Linked DNA regions of Homo sapiens: all the other regions are linked to region 3. Evidence: fine-mapped expression QTL. A gene starts in region 3. Each other region holds a variant in brackets. All regions are shown on one strand. Distances are from middle to middle. Region 1 has its middle 13 kb from the start of FBXL2. Region 2 overlaps UBP1 (upstream binding protein 1). Region 3 holds the start of UBP1 (upstream binding protein 1). Region 4 overlaps UBP1 (upstream binding protein 1).

Region 1 (8,071 bases), 180 kb after region 3:
GAGCACCACATCAAGGGATCACCCTGTGGGACAAAAGAATCTGAACAGCAGCCCTTGAGTTCCAGATCTTTCCACTGAAATAGTCTACCCAAATGAGAAGGAACCAGGGAAGTAATTCTGGTAATATAACAAAACAAGGTTCTATAACATGCCCAAAAGATCACAGTAGCTCCCCAGCAATGGATTCAAACCAAGAAGAAATCTCTGAATTGCCAGATAAAGATTTCAGAAGGTTGATTATTCAGCTACTCAGGGAGATACCAGAGAAAGTTAAAAAATAATGTAAAGAAATTAAAAGAAAATACAGGATATGGATGACAAATTTTCCAGAGAAATAAATATCATAAAGAAAAAACAATCACAACTTCTTGAAATGAAAGACACACTTAGAGACATACAAAATACACTGAAAAGTTTCAATAATAGACTAGAATATGTAGAAGAAAGAACTTCAGAGCTTGAAGCCAAGGTTTTTGAATTAACACAATCAGACAAAGACAAAGAAAAAAGAATTTTAAAATATTGAACAAAGACTCCAAGAAAGTTAGGATTATGTTAAATGACTGATACAGTTTGGCTCTGTGTCCCCACCCAAAGCTCATCTTGAATTCCCACATGTTGTGGGAGGGACCCGGTGGGAGATAATTTGAATCATGGAGGTGGTTTCTCCCACACTGTTCTCTCGTGGTAGTGAATAAGACTCACGAGCTCTGATGGCTTTATCAGGGGTTTCTGCTTTTGCATCTTCCTCATTTTCTCTTGCAGCTGCCATATAAGAGGTGCCTTTCACCTCCAGCCATGATTCCAAGGCCTCCCGAGACATGCAGAACTGTAAGTCCAATTAAAACTCTTTTTCTTCCCAGTCTTGGGTATGCTGTTATTAGCCGCATGAAAATGGACTAATACAGTACGTTGGTACCAGGAATTGGGTGTTGTGAAAAGATACCCAAAAATGTGACTGGGTATCAGGCAGAGGCTGGAACAGTTGAAGGACTCAGAAGAAAAGAGGAAAATGTGGGAAATTTTGGAACTTCCTAGAGACGTGTTGAACGGCTTTGACAAAAATGCTGATAGTGATATGAACAATAGGATCCAGGCTGAGGTGGTCTCAGATGGAGATGAGGAACTTCTTGGGAACTGGAGCAAAGGTGATTCTTGTTATGTTTTAGCAAAGAGGCTGATGGCATTTTGCCCCTGACCTAGAGATTTGTGTAACTTTGAATTTGAAAGAGATGATTTAAGGTATCCGGTGGAAGAAACTTCTAAGCAGCAAAGCATTCAAGAGGTGACTCGGGTGCTGTTAAAAGCATTGCATTTTAAAAGGGAAACAGAGCATAACAGTTCAGAAAATTTGCAACCTGACAATGCAGTAGAAAAGAAAAAACCATTTTTTGAGGAGAAATTCAAGCTGGCTGCAGAAATTTGCATAAGTAACAAGGAGCCAAATGTTAATCCCCAAGACAATGGGGAAAATGTCTCCAGGGCATGCCATAGGTCTTCACAGCAGCCCCTCCCATCACAGACCCAGAAGGCTAGGAGGAAAAAATGGTTTAGTGGGCTGGGCCCCGAGTCCCCACGCTGTGTGCAGCCTAGGGACTTGGTGCCCTGTGTCCCAGCCGCTCCAACTGTTGCTAAAAGGGGCCAAGGTACAGCTTGGCCCATGGTTTCAGAGGTTGCAAGCCCCAAACCTTGGCAGCTTCCATGTGGTGTTGAGGCTGCAGGTGCACAGAAGTCAAGAATTGAGGTTTAGGAACCTCCACCTAGATTTCAGAAAATTTATGGAAACACCTGGATGCCCAGGCAAAAGTTTGCTGCAAGGGTGGGGCCCTCATGGAGAACCTCTGCTAGGGCAGTGCAGAAGGGAAATGTGGGGTCAGAGTCCTGACACAGAGTCCCTACTCGGGCACCCACCTAGTGGAGCTGTGAGAAGAGGGTCACCATCTTCCAGACCCCAGAATGGTAGATCCACTGACAGCTTACACCGTGTGCCTGGAAAAGCTGCAGACACTCAATGCCAGCCCATGAAAGCAGCCAGGAAGGGGGCTATACCCTGCAAAGCCACAGGGGTGGAGCTGCCCAAGACTATGGGAAACTACCTCTTGCATCAGCATGACCTGGATGTGAGAAATGGAGTCAAAGGAGATCATTTTGGAGCTTTAGAATTAGACTGCCCCTCTGGATTTCAGACTTGCATGGGCCCTGTAAACCCTTTGTTTTGGCCAATTTCTCCCATTTGGAGCAGCTGTATTTACCTAATATGTGTACCCACATTGTATCTAGGAAGTAACTAGCTTGCTTTTGATTTTACAGGCTCATATGCAGAAGGGACTTGCCTTGTCTCAGATGAGACTTTGTACTGTGGACTTTTGGGTTAATGCTGAAATGAGTTAAGACTTTGGGGGACTGTTGGGAAGGCATGATTGGTTTTGAAATGTGAGGACATGAGATTTGGAGGGGTTTGGGGTGGAATGATATGGTTTGGCTCTGTGTCCCCACCCAAATCTCATCTTGAATTGTACTCCCATGATTCCCATGTGTTGTGGGAGAAACGTGATGGGCGATAATTTGAAACATGGGGGTGGTTCCCCTATACTGTTCTCTCATGGCAGTAAATAAGTCTCACAAGATCTGATGGTTTTATCAGGGGTTTCTGCTTTTGCATCTTCCTCATTTTTTCTTGCTGCCACCATGTGAGAAGTGCCTTTCACCTCCAGCCACGATTCTGAGGCCTCTCCAGCCACGTGGAACTGTAAGTCCATTAAACCTCTTTTTCTTCCCAGTCTTGGTTATGTCTTTATCAGCAGCATGAAAATGGACAAATACAATGACCAAGCCTAAGAATAATTGATGTTCCTGAGGAATAAGAGAAATCTACAAATTTGGAAAGCAAATTTGAGGAAATAATCAAGGAAAACTTCCCTGGCCTTGCTAGAGATCTAGACATCCAAATACAAGAAGTGCAAAGTACACCTGGGAAATTCATGACAAAAAGATCATCACCTGCGCACATAATCATCAGGTTATCTAAATTCAAGATAGAGGAAAGAATCTTAAGAGCTGTGAGGCAAAAGCATCAGGTAACCTATAAAGGAAAACCTATCAGATTAACAGCAGATTTCTCAGCAGAAACCCAACAAGCCAAAAAGGAGTGGAGTCCTATCTTTAGCTTCCTCAAACAAAATAATTATCAGCTGAGAATTTTGTATCCAACAAAACTAAGCTTCATAAATGAAGGAGATATAAAGTCTTTTTCAGACAAATGCTGAGAGAATGCTCTAATACCAAGCCAGCACTACAAGAAATGCTAAAAGGAATTCTAGATCTTGAAGCAAAAATCTCAAAATACACCAAAATATAACTGCCTTAAAGCATAAATCTCACAGAGTATATAAAACAATAATACAATGAAAAAAAAGCAAGGTATAACACAATGAAAAAAGAAACAAGGTATCTAGCACAATAGATGAAACAGTACTTCACATCTCAATACTAACGTTGAATGTAAATGGCCTAAATGTTCCACTTAAAAGATACAGAATGACAGAATGGATAAAAATCCATCAACCAAGTA[T/A]CTGCTGTCTTCAAGAGACTCACTTAACACATAAGGACTCACTCACATAAACTTAAGGTAAAGGGGTAGAAAAAGATATTCCATGTAGATGGAAACCAAAAGAAAGCAGGAGTAGCCATCCTTATATTAGACAAAGCAGACTTTAAAGCAACAACAGTTTTAAAAGACGTAGAGGGACATTTATAATGATAAAAGGATTAGTCCAACAGGAATATATCACAATCTTAAATATATATGCACCTAACTTTGGAGCTCCCAGATTTATTAAATGATTACTACTAGATCTAAGAAATGAGATAGACAGCAACACAATAATAGTGGGGGGCTTGTAATACTCTACTGACAGCACTACCCTGGTCATCAAGACAGAAAGTCAACAAAGAAACAATGGACTTCAACTATACCTTAGAACAAATGGACTTAACAGATATTTACAGAACATTCTACCTAACAACTGCAGAATATACATTCTTTTCATCAGCACATGGAACACTCTCCAAGAGAGACCATATGGTAGGCCACAAAACAAGTCTCAACAAATTTAAGAAAGTTGAAATGATATCAAGTACCCTCTCAGACCACAGTGGGATAAAATTGGAAAGTAACTCCTAAGGAACCCTCAAAACTATACAAATATACAAATTAAATAATCTGCTCCTGAATGATCTTTGGGTCAACAATGGAATCAAGAGGGAAATTAAAACATTCTTTGAATGGAAAGATAATAGTGACACAGCCTATCAAAACCTCTGAAATACAGTAAGAGCAGTGCTAAAAGGAAAATTCATAGCATTAAATGCCTATATCAAAAGTCTGAAAGAGGACAAATAGACAATCTAAGGTCATATCTCAAGGAAATAGAGAAAAAAGAACAAATCAAACCCAAATCCAGCAGAAGCAAAGAAATAACAAAGATCAGAGCAGAACTAAATGAAATTGAAACAAACAAAAAAAAAAGACGAATGAAACAAAAAACTTGTTCTTTGAGAAGATAAACAAAATTGATGGGCCATTAGCTAAATTAACCCAGAAGAGAGAATATCCAAATGAGCTCAGTTAGAAATGAAATGGGAGATTTTGCAACCAATACCACAGAAATGCAAAAAATCATTAAAGGCTACTTTGAACACCTTTACATGCACAGACTAGAAAACCTAGAGGAGATGGATAAATTCCTGGAAATCTACAATCCTCATAGATTAAACCAGGAAGAAATAGAAACTCTTGAACAGACCAATAACAAGTAGTGAGATTGATACAGTAATTTAAAAATCGTCAACAAAAAAAATCCATGACCAGATGGATCCACAGCTGAATTCTATCAGACATTCAAAGAAGAATTGGTACCAATTCTACTGAAACTATTCAGAAAAACAGAGAAAGAGGGAATCCTCCCTAAATCATTCTATGAAGCCAGTATCACCCTAATACCAAAACCAGGACAGGACATAACAAAAAAAAAGAAAAAGAAAATTACAGACCAAAATCTCTGATGAATATAGATGCAAAAATCCTCAACAAAATACTCGCTAACCAAATTCAACAACATATCAAAAAGGTAATACCCCATGAGAAAATGGGTTTCTTTTTTCCTTTTTTATTTTATTTATTTATTTTTTTGAGATGGAGTCTTGCTCTGTCACCCAGGCTGGAGTGCAGTGGTGCAATCTCAGCTCACTGCAACCTCCACCCCATGGATTCAAGCAAGTCTCCTGCTTCAGCCTCCCTAGTAGCTGGGACTACAGGCACCGCCACCACGCCCGGCTAATTTTTTGTATTTTAGTAGAGACGGGGTTTCACCATGTTGGCCAGGCTGGTCTCAAACTCCTGACCTCAAGCAATCCACCTGCCTTGGCCTTTCAAAGTGCTGGGATTACAGGCATGAGCCAACACGCCTGGCTTATCAAGTGGGTTTCATCCCAGAGATGCAAGGATTGTTCAACATATGCAAGTCAATATTTATGATACATCACATAAACAGAATTAAAAACAAAAATCATATGATCATCTCAGTAGATGCAGAAAAAGCATTTGACAAAATCCAGCATCCTTTTATGATTAAAACCCTCAGCAAAATCAACACAGAAGGGACATACCTCAAGGTAATAAAATCCATGTATGACAAACCCACAGCCAACAGTATACTGAACGGGGAAAAAGTTAAAAGCATTCCCCCTGAGAACTGGAACAAGACAAGGATGCCCACTTTCACCACTTCTACTCAACATAGTAGTGGAAGTCCTAGCCAGAGCAATCAGACAAGAGAAAGAAATAAAGGGCATCCAAATCAGTAAAGAGGAAGTTAAACTGTTGCTGTTCACTGATTATATGATCCTATACCTAGAAAACCCTAAAGACTCATCCAAAAAGCTCCTAGATCTGATAAATGAATACTATAAAGTTTCAGAATACAATATTAGTGTATACAAATTAGTAGCACTGCTATACACCAACAGCAACCAAGCTGAGAATCAAATCAAGAACTCAAACCCCAGTTTTTCATTTTGTTGTTTTTGTTTTGTTTTGTTTTGTTTTTTTGAGACAGAGTTTCGCTCTTGTTGCCCAGGCTGGAGTGCAGTGGCATGATCTCGGCTCACCGCAACCTCTGCCTCCTGGGTTCAAGCGATTCTCCAGCCTCAGCCTCCCGAGTAGCTGGGATTACAGGCATGCACCACCACGCCCGGCAAATTTTGTATTTTTAGTAGAGATGGGGTTTCTCCATGTTGGTAGGGCTGGTCTCGAACTCCCGACCTCAGGTGATCCCTCCTGCCTCGTGCTGGAAAAGTGCTGGGATTACAGGCTTGAGCCACTGCACCCGGCCAAGAGCCCAAACCCTTTTACAACAGCTGACAAAAAAGAAAAAAAAAAAACTTAGAAATACACCTAACCAAGGAGGTGAAAGATCTCTACAAGGAAAACTATAAAACGCTGTTGAAAGAAATAACAGATAAACAAATAGAAACACATCCCACACTCTTAGATGGGTAGAATCAATATTGTAAAAATGATCATATTGTCAAAAGCAGTCTACAGATTCAATGCAATTCCCATCAAAATACCACCATCATTCTTCACTGTACTAGAAAAAAAATCCTAAAATTCGTAGGGAACCAAAAAAGAGCCTGCATAGCCAAAGCAATGCTAAGCAAAAAGAACAAATCTGGAGGCGTCACATTATCCAACTTCAAACTGTACTATAAGGCTATATTTACCATAACAGCATGGTACTGGTATAAAAATAGGCATGTAGACCAATGGAACAGAATATAGAACCCAGAAATAAAGCCAGATAGTTACAACCAACTGATCTTTGATGAAGCAAACAAAAACATAAATTAGGGAAAAGACACCCTATTCAAAATATGGTGCCAGAATAATTGGCAAGCCACATGTAGAAGAATGAAACTGGATCTTCATCTCTTACCTTATACAAAAATCAACTCAAGATGGGTCCAATACTTAAATCTAAGACCTGAAACCATGAAAATTCTAGAAGATAACATCAGAAAAACTCTTCTAGACATTGGCTTAGGCAAACAGCTCACGACCAAGACCCCAAAAGGAAATGCAACAAAAACAAAGATAAATAGATAGGACCTAATTAAACTAAAAAGCTTCTGTACAACAACAACAACAACAAACAATCAGCAAACAGACAGCACACAGAGTGAGAGAAAATATTTATAAACTATGCATCCAACAAAGGACTAATGTCTAGAATTTAAAAGGAACTCAAACAAATCAGCAAGTAAAAGCAAATAATCCCGTCAAAATGTAGGCTAAGGATATGAAGAGAGAATTCTCAAAAGAAGATATACAAATGGCAAACAAACATATGAAAAAATGCTCAGCATCAATAACTATCAGGGAAATAGAAATTAAAACCACAATGTGATACCACCTTACTCCTGCAAGAATGGCCATAATTATAAAGTAAAAAAATAATAGATGTTGTCATGGAGGTGGTGAAAAGGGAACCCTTTTATACTGCTGGTGAGAATGTAAACTAGTAACACTACTATGGAAAACAGTGTGGATATTCCTTAAAGAACTAAAATTAGAACTACCATTTGATCCAGCAATCCCACTACTAGGTGTCTACCCAGAGGAAAATAAGTCATGATATGAAAAATGCATTTGCACACGCATGTTTATAGCAGCACAATTCACAATTGTAAAAATATGGAACCAACCCAAATGCCATATATATATATGCCATATAAAGGAACAAAATAATGGCATTCACAGCAACCTGGATGGAGTTGGAGACCATTATTGTAAGTGAAGTAACACAGGAATCAAAAATCAAACATCATATGTTCTCACTTATAAGTGGGAGCTAAGCTACAAGGATGCAAAGGCATAAGAATGATATAATGGACTTTGGGGACTCTAGGGAAAGGATGAGAGGGAGGTGAGGGACAGAAGACTACACACGGGGTACAGTGTACACTGCTCGGGTGATGGACGCACCAAAATCTCAGAAATTACTACTAAACA
Region 2 (8,071 bases), 41 kb after region 3:
TTTTAAAAGCATATCACTAATTTATTTCTGTTTCTGTCCTTAGTGTTCTCCGTGGCCCGATGCCCCCACAGCCTATGTGAATAACAGCCCTTCCCCAGCGCCCACTTTCACCTCCCCACAGCAGAGCACTTGCAGTGTCCCAGACAGGTATCTAGTTTGTGTGATCGTGTGCCTGCAGCTAACTAATGCTCATGTGCCTTCATTTCCCCATCTCTCCATGTACAGCAGCCTTTTGTTTGTATTGTACCTAAAGGAAACAGTAAGGGGAAGTATCCTGTATCTTGGTGGCAGAGGACAATCATTGTCTTTTCTTCACCTACCAGCCTTTTTTACTCCGAGCCCCTTGTGCCTTAACATAGTCACAACTATGGTAATTGTAGACAAGGCGCCATTTTCAAGACATAGCCAAGATATATTCTTTGTAAGATTAAAGACAACATTAACAGTGTCTATAGGTAGAGAGAGAGGGACAAAGTGAGTTTATTACTAAGTTCATTCACTTGTCTGTAATGCTTATATCAAATGGGTTATTTTCTGCAGTATTTCTTTTCTCTCCCAATAGATATGCTATTTTTTTAATTAAATCTTTAAAGGAAGACCTTTCGGTTTCTACAGACTTGCTGTGGTTTTAGAAATGGAAATGGTGGACTCTTTATTCTGTTATCCAGCCTTGACTGGCAAGAGTCTAGAGTAAGCTCAGGGTGGGAGCAAGAGACTGCATTTGGGGCATCTTGAAGGTACAGCAGTACCCCATGGCGGCTTTCCATTCTAGGGCTTTGCTGCAGAACTAATGCAGAGTAGTTAGCATCAGAAGTTCCCTATTTTTAGGAAGTTTCTTGTTGGGGAGGAAAATTATGAAAGCTAAGATCACAAAGAAAAAGGTTCTCCGGTCATGCTGACAAGGTCTGATGAGAAAGCAAGCAAAAATGTGCTCTCCCCCTGAGGAGATGGATAAACTGAGAAGGCAGCTTGTTGTCATGTAGGCTATTATGCTTTAAGAGTAGAAAAATAGCCTTGGACTCAGAAAATTAGAGGAGTGACCAGAGGACCAGTAGGTTACCATGTCTGAGGGCTTAGAATAGTTTCCTAGTCAGTCAGTCCGGTCTGAATAATCTTAGAAAATGCTTATGGCTTTAAAGGTGAGCTGTAAGTTTATGTACTCACTAGTAGACTGGAGAACTTATTGTGTTCCCAGCACTGTTCTAAGTGTTCTGATACATTAGTGCCCAAACAGACAGACCCCCGTCTGAAGGAGCTTAAGTTCTTATGGGTAGAAAGGATATAAATAATCAAGATAATAAACCTAAGCAATTGAGGCACGGGGGCTAAGAAAGGAGTCGGTGCTCAAGAGCCAGAAGGTAGCCCTATTCCCTGTGGAGCTGTTTTTCATTTCATTTTACTTAGAAGCACAAGGATAGTGGTACAAGTTAATTTCTTTTGTTCTCTTGAAATTCACCCTCATCAATCTTGGATATATGTATTACTTAAAGGAGTATCATTTTATATTTTTGCTTAGGGTCATTGTACTATTTCTTGTAGCTCATTTTTTTTGCAATTATTTTCAACTATTTATCTAATTTGATGTTTCATATTTTTTCCCCTAACTTTTAAAAATTAATGTGTATCCTTCATTTTCCTTGGCATCCCTGAAGATAATTGGGGAAGCCCTTTTGTTTCACAAAACTTGAATTTCTTACTAGTACAGATGAAGAAGGCACAAATTAAGACACAGTCTTCTGTGTCTTAATTTCGTCATCATGTCCACACCCTAAGCTGTTGCGCTTGCATTTTGTTGCAGACTTTCATAGCTGTCTCCCACTGTTGCCTTACTTGAAATTTGCATAGTTACAATGCAACAGCTTTTAATGCCTTGATTAAAACATATATGTATTATAAAAATCATCATTTCCTTCTTTCTCCTTTCTCCCCAGCAATTCTTCTTCCCCAAATCATCAGGGAGATGGAGCTTCACAGACCTCTGGTGAAGTAAGTATCTTTCTCCTAAAACTATCTGATGCTTTCAGGGTTCTACATTTTAAAGTTTTGGTTTTTGTGCAAATGTATGGAGTAGGTGAGAAGTTTTGTTACATGTATGGTAATGTGTGGTAATCGAGTCAGGATATTTTGGGTGTCCATCACCTGAGTAGAGTACATTTTTTTAGGTATAGTCATCCTACTCTGCTACGAAATACTGAATTTACTCCTTCTGTTTTATTGTATGTTTGTTTGCACCCTTTAATCCAGTTCTTCTCATCCTCTCTCTTATCCCTCACCCATTCTTCCCGGTCTCTGTTACCTATTTTTCCACTCTCTCCCTTCATGTGTTCAAATTTTTTTAGTTCCCACATATAAGTGAGAATATAAGTCTTTCTGTGCCTGGCTTATTTCACTTAAGACAATGAAATGTTCATGTTGTCCATGTTGCTGCAAAAGGTGATTTCATTAGCAGCGGCATGATTTTTCTCTTTTTTTATGGCTGAATAGCATCCCATTGTGTATCATGTTTAAGTTTCTGACAAGGGCCTGCATCATTTGGGTTGCTGGAGTCAGACTCATGCTCTTTTTGGGTGTTTTTTACTTCAGACTCCGAGGCTTTCTGTGTTTTGTTTAAATGTTCTAAGTCTGAATGGTTCCTTTTATTTATGTTCATTTTCATTGTTAATAGCAAATTCAGCCTTCAGCTACGATCCAGGAAACACAGCAATGGCTGCTCAAAAACAGATTCTCTTCCTACACAAGACTGTTCTCTAATTTTTCAGGTATGTGTATGTGTGTGTGTATCTGTGCATGAGAATGTTTTGTTTTTGTTTCTGTGCTTTTATTAACTTTATATTTTTAAAATTTTGAAATAACTATGGATAGGAAGTTGCAAAGAAAAATGTACAGAGAAGTTCTTTATATCTATCCCCCAATAGGAATATCTTGTATTTTTATTATATGCTATTGAAGCCAGGCAGTTGACATTGGTTCAGTCAGCAGTTTTACCAGACTTACGTGACCTCATTTGTGTGTAGGTGTATATAGTTTTACATGATTTTTTTCATTTTAACTTTATTTTGAAATAATTTTTGTTTTACAGTAAGTTACAGAGCTAGTACAGTGATATTTCGGTGTACTCTTCACTCCGTTTCTCACATAATTATAGTACAATAGCAAAACCAGGAAACTGACATTGGCACAACGTATGTTATGGTATAGATATTTGTAACCACCACCACAATTAAGATGACAGGATTGTGCCATCACTACAAGGATCTCCCTCCTGCTACCCCTTCGGAGTCACACCCACACCCTTCCCCCACCATCCCTAGTCCTTGGCAACCACTTTACATTCTGTCTATAATTTTGTCATTTTGAGAATGTTATATAAATGCAATCATATAGTATATAGCCTTTTGAGATTGGCTTTTTTTCACTAGCATAACGGCCACCTAAGTTGTTGTGTTTATCAGTAGTTTAATCCTTTTTACTGCTAAGTAGTGTTTCATAGTCTGAGTGTACTCAATTACAGTTTTTATATACTTATGGGTAAGTTTTTTTTCTTGCACAGTAAGCTAAGGGAATGTTAAGAAGGAATTTTAAAAGGTATCAAGCACTGCTTCTCCAGGTAGTGCTATAGGAAACCTGTTTAGAGGGACAGTAATAGATAATGACAGGTGGGGCAGAGGTAGCATTTCCCAAATATATTTGGCTCTGGGACTCTTTTCCAACATGACCACCTAGTAACATGGCCTGGCCAAACATCCTGAGAAGTGCTGGATCACAGTAAAGTGGTAGTTAGCATTCCTTCACCTGCAGTGCAGTAGGGCCATTAAAACACAACTTTGTGAATCCCTTTAAGAGGACAGAACTTGTGTGTGCACACACTCAGCCTGAAGAAAAGCTTGATTTTGCTAAGAACATGGTTTCTTACTATGCCACGTATTGTAATGTTTGTGCAATGAGTAGTTATTCCCCGTGTACTTCTTTGTCTCTTTAAAGTTCCCTATGGAGGTCATTTGCTAGCTGGGGACTACATTTTTATATGATTAAGTAAAGCCTTTTATGTGTGAAAAACTAGAAATTGTAAAATTTCAGGGTCGGGGAGCTGGGGTTTGTCTTGCACTGTTGTATGGAAGGCA[G/A]ATGAAAAGCATAGCACATAGAAAAAGCGCCGACATTTGGAACTGAAGGAGGCCCCACATTACTCCTTTTACATCAGGCAAATCCATGTTTCTATCTGGTGAGTTTTAATCCCTTTCGCTGTGAGCAGTGATCACATGGCGTGGCCTTCTGCCTTTTCCTTATCCTGGGGGCTTCTTCCAAGAAAGTGGGCGAGGAGCTAGCCATGGTACCCTTTGGGCACATCTCCTGAGTCACAGCACTGACAGTAGCATGGTGAGGAGGACAGTGAGTCTTCTTGCTCTGATCCTTGGGGGCATTCACATTTCAGGAAGGGTTGTACATTGCAGTTATCTGTCCAGTTCTCTGTATGGGTTAAGGGTGTGCACACACATACACAGTACTCTCTGGTCACAACTGTGAGGTGCATGTAGTAAGCCCTAGTAGAGAGATGAAAGAGAGCCTCTTTGCTTACCTGACTCTATAAAATGACTCTATTAATGCTCATGTCTCATGGGAGATGTGCTTCTCTGATCTTTGTTTTACAGACTAGAAATTTAGTAGGCTATTGCATTTGAGCCTTTAAAAAATAGAAAGATGACTCCATTATCTTCTACATATGTAAGTGGCTATTTATCATATGGAAGTCAAGCCTTCATCCCAAAGTTCATCTTAATTCCCCCAATAAACTGTATCCTGGGTGTTAGAGAATAAAACAAAAGATTATGGATACATTCAGACATTAAAAAGTAGAGAGAATATGATGAACTCCCATGCAGCCATCTCCTACCTTCAAAAACTACCAGCATTTGGTCAGTCTTGCTCTCCACTATTTCCTCTCCTGCCTTCTGTTGTATTTCAAAGCAAATCCTAGATGCCATATCATTTATGCTTGAAATACTGAATAGTAGTTCATGGTGTGTATGTACTCAGGTATGGCTTTTTTATACTTATATGTAAGTTTTTTTTTCTTGTATGGTAAGCGAAGGGAGTGTTCAGATAGAATTTTTAAAAGTGTCAAACACTGCTTCTCTAGGTGGTGCTATAGGAAACCTGTATAGAGAGACATTTACACTTGTAAATGACATCGTAAGTAGGATGTGCTTGGGGGAAATCTTAGGGTATAATGTGTGATTCTCTGCCATTCTTCTGTTAAAATTAGCTGCTGTGACAGAGTTGTTTATGTTATAAAATTTAACATGTTTGACTTTACATTGCACGTTTCAGAATAAAGAGGCCCAGTCCTAGTTCGGCTACCAACTCTTACAGACTTTAGGCAAGTCCCACAAACTCTGGACTTCCATTTCCTTTTTTTTAAAATTAAAGATTGACTGGCCCGGGTGATCTCAGGGTTTGTTTCTGTGGGGTGGGTTAGAATCATGTTTCTTCACATAGCCACAACCCAGTCACTAAATAAGGTAGATGAGTGAAATCCTATATCGGGAAGAGTTCTTTAGGCCCTGCTCTCATTGATTTGATTCATCAGCCTCAGGACTTCTAAGCTCCTTCTTGATACAGGACATGGAAAAGCCAGCATTTTCCTTGGCTCTGAAGGACAGGTGTCTGTTTGTCTTCTTATATTGTTCATGTGTATGTGTGTATTCAGGATATCTGATTATTTTGAAGGACATTGGACTGCATGAAGACAGATGCCTGTAAAGCAGTTCTGTTCTTTTTCCATTTATTTGAGAAAAATATTTTTGCTCTTCTCTAGGTGCCGACTTATTAAAACTGACAAAGGAGGATTTAGTTCAAATTTGTGGTGCAGCCGATGGAATTCGGCTCTATAATTCACTGAAGTCAAGGTAAAATACTGTGAACTGTTTTGCTTGAAATAAGAATGTACCTTTCTTCGCGTGGGGAATTTGGGCAGAATGTGTTTCCACGCTAGGTTGGCGTGTGTGCCTGTGTGCGCCATCGAGCATTGGCAGCATTGTGCTCACAAGAAGACTGTTTTGTGTACACCTTCAGGGCAGGCCCAGATATGATGCAGGCACTGATGAGGGCAGAGGTAGACTGTAAGACTGGTAGAAATGCACATGGGCAGTACTGATTTCTTGAAGACGACTGGGTTTGTTGCCAAGAAAACAAAACTTCTAATTTAGGTGAGCTATACAGAATCTATGGTTTTCAAGGTCATGACTATTACTAAACAGTTATTAAAAATGTAAACTAATTGTGAATTAAAATGACAGAAACTGTAAATTGTGCTGGCTTGTAAGAACCATTTACTATCATTGCTCTTTCTATACTTGTGGTGTGAGAATTCCATTAAAATTGAATCTTACTGATTTTTAATTTGCTGACTTAATCTTGAAACTTAAATTTACCAGCATCTGACAGACCATCTCAATGGTTTAGAGTCTGGATCATCATATTAGACCACCTGTGATAGTTGGTGTGAGGTGTGTGGTTTTTATATTTTTATTAGTAAATTACTTTGTATAACGAAATAACATTATAAAGTTCTCATAAGGAAATAGAACTTAGATTCCTGTAGTTGTCATATTTGTACATGTGTAAGGCAGCTTTCTCTCCCAGGCTCATCAGTGGCATCTTCTGATTGCAGGTCGGTTAGACCCCGTTTAACCATCTATGTCTGCCGGGAGCAGCCAAGCAGCACAGTGCTGCAAGGGCAGCAGCAAGCTGCAAGCAGTGCAAGCGAGAATGGCAGTGGGGCACCCTATGGTAGGTATTGAGGGCATCTCAATTCTGTCACTTCTGAGACTGTCAGACAGAAACGGAAAGGACTCGATTGAGCAGGCTTTGGAGAACTCTTGCTGTGTTAGGAATGCCAAGTTGCTCATGTGGGAGCCTTGACAGCAATGAGAGGTGGCAGCTCTAGGGTGAAGTCCTTGGGAGAAGAGGAAACTGGCATTCTTTCTCAGTCATTGCAGCCACACTATGGGTCTGTTTTTCATGTGGCCCTTCATGCCGGAAATATCTAACAAGTGGAAAAACTAGCTTGAATGCATTGAGTTCTGGCTTTTTTTTTTTTTTGGTCAGATTTACTGAAATGATGAATATAACACTGGCAGCTTAACAAAAAAGCAGGAGGGTTTTTCTTTCCTTTTTCTTTTTTTTTTTTTTTTTTTTTTTCAATTTTCCTGACTAGGTATGGGGAGAACTCTTAAAGCATAACATATGTGCAACAGTGCCTGCATGTAATAGTCCTAAGTGTGTGGACTTGTCACTGACAAGTGTTCGGCCAGCATTGTGCACCTTGTGTGGCGCGTCTGGTGCCGTGTTTTTATGTCACTGTAAATAATACTACCCAGTACGTTATCTTGGGAGGGCTTCTCATCCTGAGCATTTAATTGTACGGTATAGTGCTGGATTAGGACAGAGATAATCTTGGCTTCTCCCTCTTCTCACCTCTAAATATGGCCCTTAAAAAAAGCAAGCATTTTAAAAGGCATATATTTTCTCATTTATTGTATGGATATATGGTAACATTTCCTTCTTTCCATACTCTGAAGTAGAACAAAGGCAACATGCTCAGAACTTTAAAAAAAAAAAGATGTGTTAATGGCATTCAGAGATGCAGTTATTTGCCCTAAGAATAGGTAGAGCTCTGAAAAATGTCTTGTGGTTTGAATTTTACTGAAAAATTGGAAGGATAGCATCACTACTGTGAACTTTTCTATTTGGTATTATTTTGACTTCAAAAGCTCTGAATTTTGAGATTAAGTATACAAATTCTTAAAGGATAAAAATTTAAAGGAGATCTCCATGTATCATCAAGAGCTTATACATCACTTAGATATGGCCAAGATTATAATATTTTGGAAGGTGTATTCTCAAACATGAGTGTTTGTGGAGGGATATGGGGAAATATTGGATATTTTCCCATAATCAGCAAACTTTTTCTGTAAAAGGTCAGGTAGTAAATATTTCCATCTCTTTAGATCATACATAGGGTCTCTCACATTCAACTCTGTGATTGTAGTGCTAAAATAGCCATAGACAATAT
Region 3 (8,071 bases):
TATGCAGATACAGAGAAGTATCTGCAGTTGCTCACACTTCTTGTTGCACAGAGATGAACATATCAGGTATTATAGAGATTCAGTTACAGGGGATTAATAAACAAGCTGCTTGGTTAAAACAGCTTGATCTTTTATCTAGCTCTTTCTTTGATCTATTTGATTTTAGTTAGTTTAGTTCATGTTGACCCTGGCTAAGGGGCATACTCCAAAGTCTTGGTATTATCCTCTTGGTAATCTTAATAGTAGTCTCCTATGTGCACTAAGGACTTTCAAAAGTTTTAAATGTTTACATACAATCATCCATAAAATGTCCATAAAATTTAAATAAATAAAAATTCCAACATAATAAAAAAAAAGTATCCTCTACTCTAACGCTTACCAGAAAATAACCTAAAGTCCTTATTCGCACCTTACAAAACCCACTGTTGTACTATTTCCCAATGGGATTTGCGACCAGATAAGTACATTTACAATGGTCAGAAAGTAATGTCAATGTCTAGGATTTTGGTCAACCTCTCTATTTTGGTCAAGTTGAGAGGTTGAACAAAAGGGGAGAAATTGTTAAATTGAGTTTAGCCTAAAGTTGCCTCCTTATAAGTTCAGCCTAAAGGTTTCTCTGTACACAGTAAATTGTAACCTAACTGGATGTATAAATGGTCTATAACCTATTATAACAATCGCTGAGTTTTGGCTAATTACAGGAGGCCAACTGTTCAAATAATACACTCAACCAATCAAGCTGTTTTTATATCTCACTTCTGTTTTCCGTACATCACTGTCCTTTTTCTGTCCATAAATCTTCTTCCACCATGCAACAGTGTTGGAGTCTCTCTGAACATATTCTGGTTCGGGGTGGCTACCTGATTGACAAATCTTTTTTTTGCAAAATTAAACTCTTATATTTAATTTGTCTAAAGTTTTCTTTTAACACTATCCTTCTTTTATATTTTGGTCTCTTTATGACATTACTATTTAGCGCTGCTTGATACTTCTATTTTTTTTCCAGACAGGGTCTCATCTGTCACCCAGGCTAGAGTGGCATTATCATGGCTCACTGCAAGCCTTGACCTCCTGGTCTCAAGTGATCCTCCCACCTCAGCCTCTGGAGTAGCTGGGACCACAGGTGCAGGTCACCATGTCTGGCTAATTAAAAAAATTTTTTTGGCCAGGAGCGGTGGCTCATGCCTGTAATTCCAGCACTTTGGGAGGCTGAGGCAGGCAGATCACGAGGTCAGGAGATCGAGACCATCCTGGCTAACACAGTGAAACCCTGTCTCTATTAAAAATACAAAAAATTAGCCTGGTGTGGTGGCGGCCGTCTGTAGTCCCAGCTACTCGGGAGGCTGAGGCAGAAGAATGGTGCGAACCCCGGAGGCGCAGCTTGCAGTGAGCTGAGATCGCACCACTGCACTCCAGCCTGGGCAACAAAGCAAGACTCTGTCTCAAAAAAAATTTTTCTTTTGTAGAGGCAGGGGTCTCGCTCTGTTGCCCATGCTGGTCTCAAATTCCTAGCCTCAAGAGATCCTCCCCTCTTGGTCTCCCAAAATGTTGGGATTACAGTTGTGAGCAACCATGACCAGCCAACACTTTTATTTCTATCCTCCAGAACTCTAATTTTTTTTTTGTTTTTTGTTTTTCGTTGTTGTTGTTTGTTTTTCTAAGGACAGGGTCTCATCTTGTCATCCGGGCTAGGGTGCAGTGGCACAATCATAGCTTACTGTAGCCTCAAACTCCCAGGCTCAAGTGATCCTCCTGCCTCAGTCTCTCTCAAGTAGCTAGGACTACAGGAGCGTGCCATCATGCTCAACTAATTTTTTTTTTCTTGTAGAAGCGGGATCTTGCCATGTTGCCCAGGCTAGTCTCCCAATTGCTGGCCTTAAGCCATCCTCCCAAGCTTTAAGTCTTGGTCTCCCAAAGCGCTGGGATCATAGGCCTGAGACACTGCCCAGCCTGAGGCTCAATTTCTAAATATTTGACCCAGTACTTCCTTAGGGCACAGCCTGATTGAAAAATTGATGGTAGCTTGTACTTTTACACTCTCTCCAAAAACCAGAGAATTATCTTCCCCCAATTCCATTTCTCCAAATTTTCCAACAACTAATAGTAGGCCTGGCTAATCTGGTTATAGACTAGGTTATGCAAGTGAGGTGAGATCATGGAATGAAGACATATCTGAGACCCCCAATGAGACCAATGTTTCCCTTGACTATCCAATTGTTTGTGCAGATTTATTTGTAATAGTGGAATGGAGCTTCCTGAACTGATGGCCAATCTAATGTTTTCGCCTGGAATCAGAGAAATCTGGATTAGTCAAATAGCCCCGGTTTACCTGCTTACTGTGTGACCTTGCACTGTGTAATCTTTACACATTTTCACCTGAATTACCTCATCTCTAAAGTATGGCTTTATCAAATGAAATGTTTGCAAAAATGTTGTGTAAAGAGAAAAACATTCTCCAAGTTAATTTGTGGTTTTTTTTTTTGGAGACCGAGTGTTGCTCTGTCTTCTCCCGGGTTCAAGCCTTACTCCCGCCTCAGCCTCCTGAGTAGCTGGGATTACATGGGCGCGCCACCACATCCAGCTAATTTTTGTTATTTTTGGTAGAGACGGGGTTTCACCATGTTGGCCGGGATGGTCTCCTGACCTCAACTAATTCACCCGCCTCGGCCTCCCGAAGTGCTGGGATTACAGGCGTGAGCCTGTAAGTTAGTATCTAAATCACACAGGCGTTGAGACTATTTTTTTCTGGCTCAGTGCCACTGCTTTATTAGGCTGACATTTTAATCTATGTATTTTTGCACTTAAACTGGCAAGTTGGGGCGGGGCGCTCAGCATTTGGGTCTTATTCTTAGGCAGTAAGTTCGATGCAGGGCGAAGCCCGGGCCTTGACGTTCTCTTCAGCAAGGATTCCGCCCGTCAAGCGCCAGCAGCCGCTCCTAAGGAACTCTGATCCGCACACTGGCTCTGTAAGTCAGCCTCTGGCTCCTGCTTTCTATTTCATCTCTTCCGGTAAAAAGATTTCTGTCTTTTGGCCGCAGTGGCGCGTGCCCACGCTAGGTCGCTGAGGAAGACCCTTCGGGCCTTCTGAGCAGCGTAGCTGTTACTGTGGCACGTCCTAATGGTTCGGTCCAACTTCAGGAGACCGCCTGCCCTTAGGATGACCAACAGCTAGTTCAACTCAGGATAGCCAAGCTGCTCTCGGCAATGCAACCAATAGGGGAAGTCTTTCCAGAGCTCTTTCTCAGGAGCGTTGATTGGCTTATTCTCACGCCAATCAAGGTTTTCTGCACAACTGGCTTTTCTGTCACCAGATGGGGTGCAAACCGCTCACTCCCTCGGTAGAGAGGGCATAAAGCAGAGACGACCGGGAAATACCACAGAGGAGCAAATCACCTCCGGAAGTGGCGTTTTGGGTCGCTTTCTACCATGCAGTCCAATGAACTCTTTCTTTTGGCAACAAATTCCGTCTTCGAGCCCGCCCAAGGTGAAGAACATTTTGATTGGTTGTTTAGTCGGGGGACACAGAGACTCACGGGAGCTTCGTCCAAGCCCTTGCAGGTATTGCTCAGTTGGCCTGTCAATCATCTCGCTCGCTAGAAGGGGCGGAAACTGGCAGCCCTTTTGGCACCGCCTCTTCCTGGGCTGCTGTGCGGGGACGCAGCGAGGCCACCCCGGCTGGGAACAGCCGCGTGGGCGGGGCCGCATTGCACTCTCTGGACAGTTCCTGGGCCGCGAGGCGCGGGGAGTGGCCCTAAGCGCGGGGCTGTACGGGGAGGGCCGAGGCGTGGGGCGAACGCCGGGGCGGGGTCGGGGCGGGGCCGGGGGAGGCGGAAGCGGCGCGTGAACCTAAGTCGGAGTCGCGTTGAAGCCAGCGTCCGGCCGGCAGAGCGGCGTCGGCGGGGTTGGCCGGGGCGGTGTGGCGCTAGAGCCTGGGCGGGCCGGGGGCAAGGAGTCAAGGCTTGGGGGCGGGTGACGGGCGGGCGGAGGGCTTGCCCCCGTGTGGTCCTCGGAGCGGCCCGAGGTCCAGCCTCCCAGCGGTCCCGGAGGAGGATGCGACCGGGGGGCCCCGGGCGGGGCGGTCGGCGGCGGCTGCAGCGCTAGCGGCGCGGGGGCTGGGCGGCGGCGCCGGCATGAGGCGCAGGGCCGGTGTCCGCGGGAGGGTGGCGCTGCCGGCGGCCCGGCCGCTCCCGCTGCAATTGCTCGCTGGGCTCGTCGTGCCCTGCCAGTGGGGCCCCCGCAGCTCTCGTCCCGGCCGCCGCTGGTGACCACTCGCCGCCCCTCCGGAGGCTTCACCCGCGCCCTCCCCCAGGACGCGCCAGCGGAGCTCCGGCTCCTTCGCCCTGGACGCGGAGGCCGCGGTGTGCGGGGCGACGGCGAGGCCGGAAGATGGCCTGGGTGCTCAAGATGGACGAGGTGATCGAGTCCGGGCTGGTGCACGACTTCGACGCCAGCCTCTCGGGCATCGGGCAGGAACTGGGCGCCGGCGCTTACAGCATGAGGTACTGGGCTCCCTGGGCGGGGAGAAGCCTCTGTCTCCTTGGGGAAGGCCTGCGCAGCCCTGAGTCTCTGCCAGATGCGGCTGCTCCCAGAGGTGCGCGGGCCTCCTGGGCTGCGGGGTCGGAGTCCTGCCGCGTGGCGGTCGGGGGCCATGGAACCCCAAAGGCCTCTGCTCGCCCTGGTGACGGGCGGGTGGGGGAGGATGGCCCCGCAAGCGTCGGCCTCGGACCGCTCCTGAGTGCTTCATATTTGCTGTAAAACACGCCCAGCTATTAGGATGGCTTGGGTTGGTGGGGGAAGGGGCTTCTTTTCCTTATAAGTGATTTACAAGTCCCATTGGAGCTAGAATACACTGTACGAAAAGGCAGCACTTATATTGGGAGAATACTGTCTAGCGTTTTGGGATCAGTTCCTACTTTGTTGTCCTACATTATGATCTTTTCTGGCTGCAGATTTTAATCACTTGATGTTAGTAAATTATAATTGAAAGAGCAGCGGTGGGAGTAGCACTGTGACTTCGTTTTGTTCTTTTGATTGTCTCAAAGTGAAGTTTCTCATTTTGGAGACTACCCTCTCAGGCTGTTTCCTCTTGAGGGTTTTAAGATGCAGTGATTGCACCACAAATAATTGTTTAGTCTCTGCTGTCTGTACCAGCAGTCATTCATTTTAATATGGAGAGATTGAAACAGATCTGAGCTTAGTCTCCGCCCTTTATCCTTTTTAACTGTTAGGAATTTGGAAACTCTGTATTTTTTTAGTGGCTTTATTGAAATATAGTTTACCATAGCGTTGACTTGACTAATAAAGTCTAAAAATCAGTGGTTTGGCAGCTTTTCAATAATGTGAATTAAGTGTAGCTTTCTGTTCTTTAGAAAATGTCTGATGTTTTGGAAGTGCTCTACAGTTTCCCAGTAGCATTCATACATCTTACTGCAGCTCTAGAGGAGGACTTCTGGGTTAAAGCTGGCCTGGAATCTTGGTGGCTGCTCCTTGAAGTAATTGGGTCTTTAAATCTTAAGGAGAAATTCTGAGCCATAAAGAACTCTCAGAAAGGTTGGAGACATTTCTTGGAGTGTGGAAGTGAGTAGTGGAAGGCATATTAAACCTGGAGTTCCCCAGCGTCTGGCTCTGATTTGGTCTCTGTTGGGCTTCCTGAACTTGGCACCTCTTCTCTCTGCAGTTGTATAACTTAAGGCCTGTAGATGAGTTGGCTTATTTTCTAAAACAGCTGTTTCAGTTGTTGAGGAAATTGAGCTACTGAAAGTCATGGAGTCACCCCAGAGGGGAGTATTAGAGGCAGTGCTTCTCTAGTGAAAACGCACTCCTCTAGTGCCATTCTGCTCCTTAGCTCTCTACTGGAAACACGAGGCTTATAGTCAAGGCAAAGGAGGCACGTGAAGCAAGTTCAATATGTGTCTCTCCTCAGTTGCTTCTCTTTTATGGTAAAATGAAAGTTTGCTGCTGAAAAGTTTACTTATTGATAGCTATTTTGAGCTTTTACTTTTTTCTAGGGTTTTATTTGACCTGTACTTTGATTTAGTGATTCAGCCAACTTATTAATGTAATAACTTCTGTGTATGGTTTATTTCCATGAAAAGGAAGTACAATCTTGATGATTTTAAACCTTTCCCTGACCATGTATTTTTAAAGTAATGTGTGAGATCTTTGTAATTCTGTGTAACCTACAGTACTCTTTACAGGGATAATTTTCCCTTGAATTCTTTTTTGGTTGTGTCATTTAATCTAAATTTTCAAAGAAGTTTGAAGGTAATTACCATTTTTAAGAAGGTTTTTTTTTCGTATTTAATTGAGTCCTCAAAAACTAAGAGATGAGAGTGCTTGCCTCTTGCAAATTCAAGGCCCTTTGTTTGAAATTCTCAAACTAAGGAAATTCCAAAATTGACTCGATAAGGAGAAAATCTGAAGAAGGCGTTAGCTGCTGCAGGCCTCCCTGGACTGCAGTTGTACTTTCCATGCCTGGCCCTGGAGCCCTGAGAGGGTTGGAGTGCCTATGAATGGCCAGCTTGAGCATTCAGTCACTTCCTCTGGCATCCAGTGGGAAGGAAAGCTTATCTTTCAAAGTTCAAGAAGTAAACTTGAAGAAATTACTGGAAAAATGACTTCTTGATACAAATTGATTTTGTAGGCAGCTTTCTATTTTTCTTTCAAAATGAAACATGCTTACTGTATTTGCTTTTTGGATGGCTTAAAACAAGAGGTATTTCTTAAAAGACTTCTCTTAGGGAATGGTTTCCTCATCTTTTGGGAGGATAGTTTGAAAGGAAGAAATGGCTTCTGTCAGTGGTCTGACTTAAAATTAGGCAGGTGTGATGTTTGGTATGCTTGTAGACCTAGCTACGTGGGAGATTGCTTGAGCCCAGAGGTTCAGGGGTGTAGTGTGTGCTATGATTGCACCTGTTAATAGCCACTGCATTCCAGCCTGGGCAAGAATGAGACCCCCTTCTCTTTTGTTGTTTCCCCCCACCCCTTTCTCTTAAAACAGTAGGAAAAATATGTTTGTGTAAAATAATGTAGGCTGGTAATATTGGGAATATATTGGGGCTAATTACTAACATTACCTTTGCTTCTCTTTTTCTTTTGGCTCTGGTTCTCATGTGTTCTGTGTGTGCTGTTGTATTATACTTTTTTGTTGTTGTTTTTGTTTAGTCTTTTTTGGTGGTTATATTTGGATGTGAGATGTGAACTGCAGCAGATTCTATTTGAAATGAGGCAGGTCATAAATGTTTTTAAAAATCTTGGTTACAGTAACAGGATTTTAGAGATGGATAGAGACCTTCCTTAGAAACCTTTTAGAGTCTAGACCACTCCTTTTCTTATACTGTAAATGCATTATCTGAGGGTCATAGATGTTAAAGTGATTGGCTTAAACAGATGAAGGCTGATTTTTCCCCCACACAGAGTGAAGACTGAAACTCATGGTAACTTGAAATCTGGGTCATTCTCGTTTTGTGAAGTATGGAGTAGATAACCAAATGACTTTAAAAAATAATACTCATTAAAACTCAAAGAGGGTCTTTGGACCACCTGGTAATTTTCTTTCCATCTCACTGTATGAAATTTATCATCTGTAGCCAAGTTAATTTTTAGGATTTGGGGGCTCAATATTGAAATATTTTTGAAGGTTATAGGAAGTAATGGCTTGTATAGCTTACTCTTTTAAAAATTTTGATATTAAATTATTACTTTAAAAAAGGTATTGTCTGAGCCCTGTTTGTTAAACTTCGCTGTGGTATAAATCTCTTGAAACAAAAGATATACATTATGTATTTTGAAATGGGAGGTACATCCATAGTTTACAAATAATTTGCTAAATCAAAACTGCTTTGAGCTAATGACAGATTTCCTATGTTGATTGAAAGGTAAAATGTTTATTTAAGAAATCTATTGTACAACAAGGTTACTGTAGTTAATGATACAATGTATTCTTGAAAAATGCAAAGGGTGGATGTTAATGTTCTCACCACAGTGATAACTGAGGTAATACGTTTGTTAATTGGTTGAATTTAAACATTGGACAGTGTATATATGTCAAAACATCGTGTTGCACATGGTA
Region 4 (8,071 bases), 50 kb after region 3:
TAGTTCCAGCTTCTTTTATGTAATGGAAAATTCTGGGTTTCTATACTCACAGACCCCTTGTTTGGGGAAGCAAAGTTCTCAGTAATGATATTCCTGATCCATGTCTGGCTTTAATCAGTAATTGAGCAGGACGTACAAGAGTGAGACTCACTACAGATGTGCACTGTGCAGATGTCTGCTGATAAGTTCTGTGTAGCAAAAATGCAGAACACTGGAATGTGGCTGGGGCTTTCTGTAAGGAAGCATCACACTTCATTGTTTATATTAGCTTTTCATATAGTATCTTTTATTTAAAATTTTTTGTGGGGGAGGGGCATATACAGATAGCTTTTATTCCTTAGGATAAATTCCTAGTAGTAGGATTACTGGATCAAAAACTATAATGCTTAACTGGGCGTGCTGGCTCACGCCTGTAATCCCAGCACTTTGGGAGGCCTAACTGGGCAGACTGCGTGAGCCCAGGAGTTTGAGACAGCTTGGGCAACATGGTGAAACCCTGTCTCTACAAATAATAATAATAATAATAATAATAATAATAATAAAAATTAGCCAGGCATGGTGGCGTGTGCCCCCACCATAGTCCCAGCTACTTAGGAGGCTGAGGTGGGAGGATTGCTTGAGCCTGGGAGGCAGAGGCTACAGTGAGCTGTGATTGTGTCACTGCACTCCAGCCTGGGCAACAAAAAAGGACACTGTCTTAAAAAAATAAACAAAAAGAACTATGACTCTTTTAGGGTTCTTTTTGTATATTGCTAGAAATACATGAAGTATATATTATTTTTAAAAACAGCTTTCTTCAGGCATAATTTACATACCATAAAGTCCTCCCATTGTAAGTATATAATGGTATTTTAGCCAATTTAGAGAGTTTGGCAGCCATTGTCAAAATTCAGTTTGAGTTCCATTATTTCAAGAAGATCCCCCATGTCCATTTGCAGCCAATTCCTGTTTTTAAATTTTGAATACATGAAACTATATTCATTGAATAAAAATATGAAGAAAAATTCAAACCTCAAATCTTTTTGTCCAGGGATTTCTGTTAATGTTTATTAAATTATATTTGTGGATATAAATAATGTATTCTTACGTTTTAGATTGGTAGTTCAAGATTTCAAGGTAGTAAGATGGGGGAAAGAAATAGTTTATTCCCATTTAAAATGTTTTTTTACTTTTTTGGTACTTTGAAAGGTGTGACCTTCGTACAGATCCTACAGATCAGGCAGAAAACAGATCAAAGATTACTGTTAAAATGCTTTTCTTTTTTTTTTTTTAATTTCAGTTTATCATGCAATCTACTTGGAAGAAATGATTGCCTCAGAAGTTGCTCGAAAACTTGCGCTGGTGTTTAATATCCCTCTCCACCAAATTAATCAGGTTTACAGACAGGGTCCCACCGGTATTCACATTCTTGTTAGTGATCAGGTAAATCAAATCATTTGTTTTTCCTTTTCAGACTGGTATTTACTTTTATACATGTAATTGTAGAACTGTAGAAAAATTCTGTGACCTCTTTTGAAAATACTTATGAGAATCATTTTCAGAGAGTTGGGAATCACTTTGGAAGAACTTATAACCAAGAGTTTCAGGCATCCTAGTGATAATATGGAATACAAGCCAAGGAAAACTGGCTTAGCCTCCCCCCAGCCCTTTAGGATGCAGCCAATCACTGGGGCACTCTAGGGATAGTGGCAGGCTTTGGCCCTTTTTATGAGGTGAGTCACTGGATGTGTTTTCCTTTTGTCTATTATTTGATGACTAATTTAAAAAAACATGTAAGATATATAATTTTTCCCCTAGTGATTGGTGGCAAGTAATAATAGAAGAGCACTTTATGCAATTTTTGTTCGAGTCATCATCCACTGGAGCCGGCAGGGAATGTGCCCCTGTGGGTCACATGGGTGACTGACCAGGTCTCTCAGGGACCATTATGGACAGGCATAGTGAACACAAGGCAGTGCAGCACGTGTGCATCTTTGCTGCCTCACACTGCCTTCATGAATTATCGTTTTGGCCATTGAGTCCTGTGTTTGTTTGAGAAGAATATTTACTGTTTTAAAATCATTTTAAGAAACGACAGTTGGATCTTAATTGTACTTACGCATTTACTTTATCCTTCCAGATGGTTCAGAATTTTCAAGATGAGAGTTGTTTTTTATTCTCCACAGTAAAAGGTACTTTGCATGTGTGTGTGTCTTAAAATGCTGGAATCATGAGAGATGGTGTGTGCCTCTAATTAGTGCCTCTCGTGTTTATTCTTTAAAATGATTGCTTTACTCATTTTAAGAAGAAAGTTTGATAAATGAGAATATTTCTAGTGGTTGTAACAGAAATTAGCATATAAGGAAGAGGAGTCAGTCTTTCTAGATGACTGGAAAAAAAAATCTCAATTCATTCAGCCAACGTCTTACTGAGCACTTTGTGTCAGACACCGTGCTTCTGTCGCTCAGTGGATCTATTGAATAAAACAGAATCCATGAAACTCCTATTGGGGAAAGCAAACCAAAATTGGCCAAGAGATACACAAAATTCCCAATATGTTAAGTTCCATGAAGGAACAGGAAAGTGTGGGGGTACTTATGGATAAGGGAGATCTGGGTTGAGGGGAATATGAAACTGTAAGGCAAGGCTTCTCTGAGGAGGTGTTATTAATCCTGAGACTTGAAGAATGAGAAGAAGCGGGAGCTGGCCATTGGATTAGCATCCCCAGGCAACGTGGGGCTGTGTGCAAAGAAAACACCTGGCTTCTTGGAAAGCCTGGCAGTGGGCCATGTAGGTGCCATGCAGTGTGTGAGGGTGAGCGGATCAGGGCAAATCAAAGCAGGAGGCCGGGTCTGGCATGCGGGGACCGGATGATGATGGTAGTTCGGATTTACTTGAAATGCATTGGGTTGTCACTGAAGTTGTTTAAACAAAGGAGTAGTAATGTGACTAGATTTTTCTTTCACTTTCACAACTCTGTGGAGACAGATGAGAAGGTGGCAAAACGAGGCAGGAGATATCCAGGTGAAAGGTGATGGTATCTTACACGTTTATAGACAGGGTCCCAGTGGGCTCCACTTTTGAGGGAGGAATAGTTCTGACACCTTATTTTCTGTGGAAAGTAACTGGGCAGATGGTGATCTCATTGAAGAGGTAAGTATGGTTGGGGTAAATCAACCAAGAGTTTGATTTTGGATATGTAGAAATGTCAAGTAGGCAGTTGACTATTACCAGTCTGGGGCTCAGAGAAGAGGCCTGGGCTTGAGATGTAAATTTGGAAACCTTCAGCATATCA[G/A]CAGTGACTCAAAGCTGTAGAAGTTGTTAAGGTCATTTAGGGAGAGAATATGAAAAGAGCCAGGACCAGGCTTAGGTGGCTCCAACATTAAAGAGGAGGGATTCCTAAATGTAAAATTATTTGAGAAGAGATCATACATTCATAGACTGTTTTAAAAGTCAGGTGAGCTAAGATCCAAATCCGGTCTTAGCACAAAAGCTGCCCCTAGAAGAGGGAGATGTCATGTGTGTCAGGTGTCCCCAGACTACTGAAATACTGATTTTATTTTGCGCCTCACATGTTGCGTATGCCATCAGGTTACCTGCAAGGCTGAGTTTTAACTCTGAACTGGTTCACTCTTTCAGAAACATCTTTAGCCTAGTACCCTTCTGCTCAGTCTTTTGTTTTCACAGCAGTACAGTTTTTACCTTGCATAACTGACATTGTCTGAAAAAGAAGACATATACTATAATTGCATAGTTTTGTTTTGTGAAACCAGCAGACATTTTTTGGTATTAGAAATCATAGGATCTCCCCTCTAATCTCAATTTACTGTTTTGTTTTTTTTTTTAAACTTTGTCGTCATGAGAAAAATCATTTTTTTATGAATGCCTATATTGCTTCTCACTATTTACTGAGAAACACTAGGCAAAAGGAATGATACAGTTTTAAAATGTTTGAAATCTCTGTGAGTAGCTCAGAAATTTTTCTGGAAAAGGTAGATGTACACATTTGCATTTACTCCCTCAGGTCCTCTGCCCTGACACAGTATATTTCACCTGTTCTCCTTCTAGCTCTTGCTCCCCTTATGGACAGCACTATTATTGTGTGTCTTGATAGATGTCCCCCTACCCCCAGAACTGGCAGACAGTGTTGGAATGCGGGCGTTGATAGTGGGCCAGGCTTCGCAGAATGTCTAAAAAGGGAATGTGTACATGAAGTTTTTTGGGGGAAGAGGAGCTAGAGCAAGTTAATCTGCTTGTTTCTCTAGAATCATTTAAAGGTAACCTCTGAATTGGGAAGGGAGGTTGTAGTTGGCAGGGAGTTTTCCATTTAATAGGCTTAATTTCCTAAGCCTGACTGAAGAAATACTGTCTTTCCTTTTTCTGCAGCTGAAAGTAGTGATGGCATCCACATAATTTTGAAGTGATGTCTTATATAGACTGAACTGTATTCAGTACCAAATAGTCACGCTTAAAAGTGTGTGAAGACTGAATCCAAGAAGTCTTGGGATTGGATTTTACCATATGAAATGTTTCATATTGAAAACACAAGATGACCTTTCTAATGAGCTGTATGAGAGGTGAATCTCCTCACTGTCACTGCCATAGCCAAGCATCCTCATGAGAGTGAGCACATCGGCACAGCATGCATCCAGCTCTGGAGGCCACGGTGCAGGCATAGCTGCCTGCTGCTCTGGCAGAGGCCAGTAAATACAGTTCCTAGAAGCAGCCTTTGCTGTCTTTTTACACTGTATGCGGTTTGGAAATGAATGTAGAAACTTACTGTGGGCATTTACCTTTCTGTGCCAGTTTGGCTTTTATTGCCTGAACCTTATGCTGACCTGGAGAGGAGATGGGGGACAGTGCTGTTGTGGGGCCAGCAGTGAATCTGTATGCGGAGAGTTGTGTTGTGCTGATGTGGCCGTTGGTGGTCAGGTAAGAGGCTCGGCACCTTCTTGGAAGAAATCATGTCTGAGGGTGTACGTTTGATATGATCATGCCAGATTGGAGAAGATCCAAGCCAGGAAGATGGGCTTGAAGCAAACTGCATTATCAGGAGTACCTTGGTGAGAGGATCAGTGTAAATCCTAATAGGTACAAAGACTTTTGTGTTTTGGCTTTGTCACAGATTTATTGAAAAACTTTTTTGCTTCTGCTTCCATTTTTAGCATTTTAGTTTCTGGTTTTCATTTTTGGAGATTCCTTGCCTTTTAAACTCGTGGTTTTTCTCTCATTTTCTTCCCTCTCTCCCTCCATCTCTGACCACCCCCACCCTAACCCCCCACCCCCACCATCCTATTAAACATTTTTAAAGCCCTACCCCAGACATTGGAAATAGGTGACCCAAGTAGGGGGAGAAAGTATTATTGTTGATAGCTTCTGACTAGGTGTTAAGGGATCTTCATTATGAACAAGATGAATTTTTTTCTGGAAACACTAGATGTTATCAATCAAACACTAAAATGTACCATACAAATCCCTTAAGCCTCTCAAATATTGAGCTTTAGTACAATCATGGATAGACATTCTGGTGATGATTTAGGGGCTTTTTATACACCACATACTAGCTTCTTTCTCTATAAGAGTGCCTCTTTCATAAAACCAAATGCTTGTCTGCTAGCATACTTTTCAAAGGGAATCCACTGTTTTCTCACTTTCCTCCCATATCTCCGTCCTTCATCCAAAACCTTCCCAGAATCCATCAGCAAGCATGTTTGAGGCCTGTGGTGTAGGGGACTGAATTTTTTTTTTAACTTCTATTCCATTTTAATTGTAGGATATCTTTGTCCATATACCCAGGTGTCCTGATTTGAATGTACTATTTGATCCTCATTGTGTTCAGGCAAAAAATAGGAAATGAGTAATTTTGAGTTTGAAATCTCTCCCAGAAGACAAACTACTTCAGTGAGTAAAAGCTTTGACATTTTATGTTTTATTCATAAAGGGGGTTAATTATTTGCTACAAAGAAGCACGATCTATTTTCATCATCGATTTGAAAATATCTGTAACTCCTATAGATCCTATAGGCAGAGAGTTTTCCTTTCTGACTTTTTCCCTTTGCTTTCGTGTGACCACATGTTTTCTGTACCAGTCACTGGGGAAAGAAGTGAGTTTATCTCGTTTGTTTTAAAAGTTTTGCTTGTCTATTTAGCATTCCTTTTTGGGTCTCAAGATTTATGGAACAATAAATGTCATTTAATGCTGTGTGCTTATTTTGAATTCCTCATCAGGTTTTAGAAGCGGGGTAAAAATACTTAGATGCTTATCAGACTTGAAATTATACTGAGTGGCATTGAACGTGAGTTTGTCCCAGTGAAACAGGCTAAATAAATTTTGGCACCAGCAAATTTGTTACTTTGTTTTTTTAATAGTAGGATGTACACATTTCAGTATAATAAATGTTTTCTGATTGTTTTGCAAATGTGTGTCTCATTTAAAATCCCAGTTCCTGCTACTGTCACTTCGTGTCATAGAATCAAGGAGTTTCCCTGTGTGTATTCTGAGCCAGTCTAAATGTAGTAAGAGGTTAGGCTCATAGTTTTTTCCTTTTCAGTTTATTTTCTGAAAGCTGATGCAACTGAGGATATGTTGTTATTCCATTAACTAACTAACTAACTAACTAACTAACTAAACTATTCCAGACTTTAAAAGGAAGCAAACCTGATTTTCTTTTTTTTTTTTTTTTTTGAGACGGAGTCTGGCTCTGTCACCCAGGCTGGAGTGCAGTGGCGCAATCTCGGCTCACTGCAAGCTCTGCCTCCCGGGTTCACGCCATTCTTCTGCCTCAGTCTCCTGAGTAGCTGGGACTACAGGCACCCGCCACTATGCCCGGCTAATTTTTTTTGTATTTTTAGTAGAGACGGGGTTTCACTGTGTTAGCCAGGATGGTCTTGATCTCCTGATCTCACGATCCGCCCGCCTCTGCCTCCCAAAGTGCTGGGATTACAGGCGTGAGCCACCGTGCCCAGCCTGCAAACCTGATTTTCTTACAAGAGGTTCTCCTGTTTTGTAAATGAGGCCATGGATCATTGAGCATCAAGTCCAATAGCTGTGACTGATGATAGGTTGTATCCTGGCTCAAAAGAAATCAATCATGTATAGAAGGCTCTGGTGGTTTGTTTTGTTTGTTTGTTTGTTTTGTTTTGAGATGATGATGGAGTCTCACTGTTGTCTCCTGGGCTGGATGGAGTGCAATGGCACAATCTCGGCTCACTGCCACCTCCGCCTCCTGGGTTCCAGCATTTCTCCTGCTTCAGCCTCCCGAGTAGCTGAGATTACAGGTGCCCAGCACCACGCCCGGCTAATTTTTGTATTTTCAGTAGAGATGGGGTTTTACTGTGTTGGCCAGGCTGGTCTCAAACTCCTGACCTCAGGTGATCCACCCGCCTTGGCCTCCCCAAGTGCTGGGATTATAGGCATGAACCACCGTGGCCAGCCTTAAGTTAATTTTTTTTAATAGAAACTAAACTAATTCATAATCACTGAAGCAAGTCTGTTATATGCTCATTTATTGAAGTTGCTTCCTGCATCAGTCCTCCTCCCCCATCATCTCTTCCACAACAAACAGTGGGTATAAATGTATATTTAACTAACTGCTATGGTATCCACACAATTTTTAGACCAAGGAATACTGGAATATATCATAAGGCAATAAAATGACTTTAATGCTTACTCTGATGATAATTGTGCTAAGTCCGTTTATGGGGAGATTATATATATATATAATCTGCTTCTCTTCCTAGAATGCAGCTGACATAATATATCCTTAAAAACACTTCTAAAACTGCCTAATAAAGGTATTGGTAGTCATGGGAACACATCTTGCTTTTGCCGTTTCACTTTTAAGTTTCTCATGAGCTCTGGCCCTTCAGTTTGGGGGAGTGGTTGTTTGGAAGGGCCAGCCACCATGAACACCTAAGTTTACAATGAAGGTGGTGATGACTGATTGACAGGTTCTTAATAAAGATCATAAATATGGACAGCATGGAGCAAGAATGAACCACAGCAGAGAGTAGGGTCATTTTATCAGATTTCAGATAACATCAGGAAGGTCTGCATTTGGAAAATGGTTTTGCTTGGATGTGTCTGCCATAA

The links. PIP is the estimated chance that this variant, and not a neighbour inherited with it, causes the effect.
Region 1: its variant is the best candidate, but not a certain one, in a credible set for the expression of UBP1 in whole blood (TOPMed, PIP 0.55).
Region 2: its variant is the best candidate, but not a certain one, in a credible set for the expression of UBP1 in lymphoblastoid cells (GTEx, PIP 0.89).
Region 4: its variant is the best candidate, but not a certain one, in a credible set for the expression of UBP1 in whole blood (TOPMed, PIP 0.84).

Annotation. Positions count from the first base shown.
Region 1 is chr3:33,260,773-33,268,843 of GRCh38, reverse strand. No RefSeq gene overlaps it. Among named protein-coding and RNA genes, the nearest start is that of FBXL2, 13 kb to the left of the region's middle. The variant T/A (reference allele first, on the strand shown) is at 3,572.
Region 2 is chr3:33,394,877-33,402,947 of GRCh38, reverse strand. UBP1 (upstream binding protein 1) reads left to right here. Exons shown (of 16, transcript NM_014517.5): 9 at 44-147; 10 at 1,932-1,986; 11 at 2,666-2,759; 12 at 5,813-5,903; 13 at 6,668-6,786. It also overlaps a transcript of FBXL2 not described here. Among named protein-coding and RNA genes, the nearest start is that of UBP1, 41 kb to the left of the region's middle. The variant G/A (reference allele first, on the strand shown) is at 4,122.
Region 3 is chr3:33,436,164-33,444,234 of GRCh38, reverse strand. It overlaps UBP1 (upstream binding protein 1), which reads left to right and starts at 3,830. Exons shown (of 16, transcript NM_014517.5): 1 at 3,830-4,499. The coding sequence starts at 4,387. RefSeq lists enhancers at 2,852-3,141, 3,352-3,541, 3,873-4,372 and silencers at 3,692-3,851, 3,912-4,021, 4,072-4,391, 4,622-4,671, 4,591-4,825 and 1 more.
Region 4 is chr3:33,386,663-33,394,733 of GRCh38, reverse strand. UBP1 (upstream binding protein 1) reads left to right here. Exons shown (of 16, transcript NM_014517.5): 14 at 1,280-1,422; 15 at 2,120-2,171; 16 at 4,366-6,398. The coding sequence ends at 4,403. FBXL2 (F-box and leucine rich repeat protein 2) reads right to left here. Exons shown (of 15, transcript NM_012157.5): 15 at 6,642-8,071. Among named protein-coding and RNA genes, the nearest start is that of UBP1, 50 kb to the left of the region's middle. The variant G/A (reference allele first, on the strand shown) is at 3,275.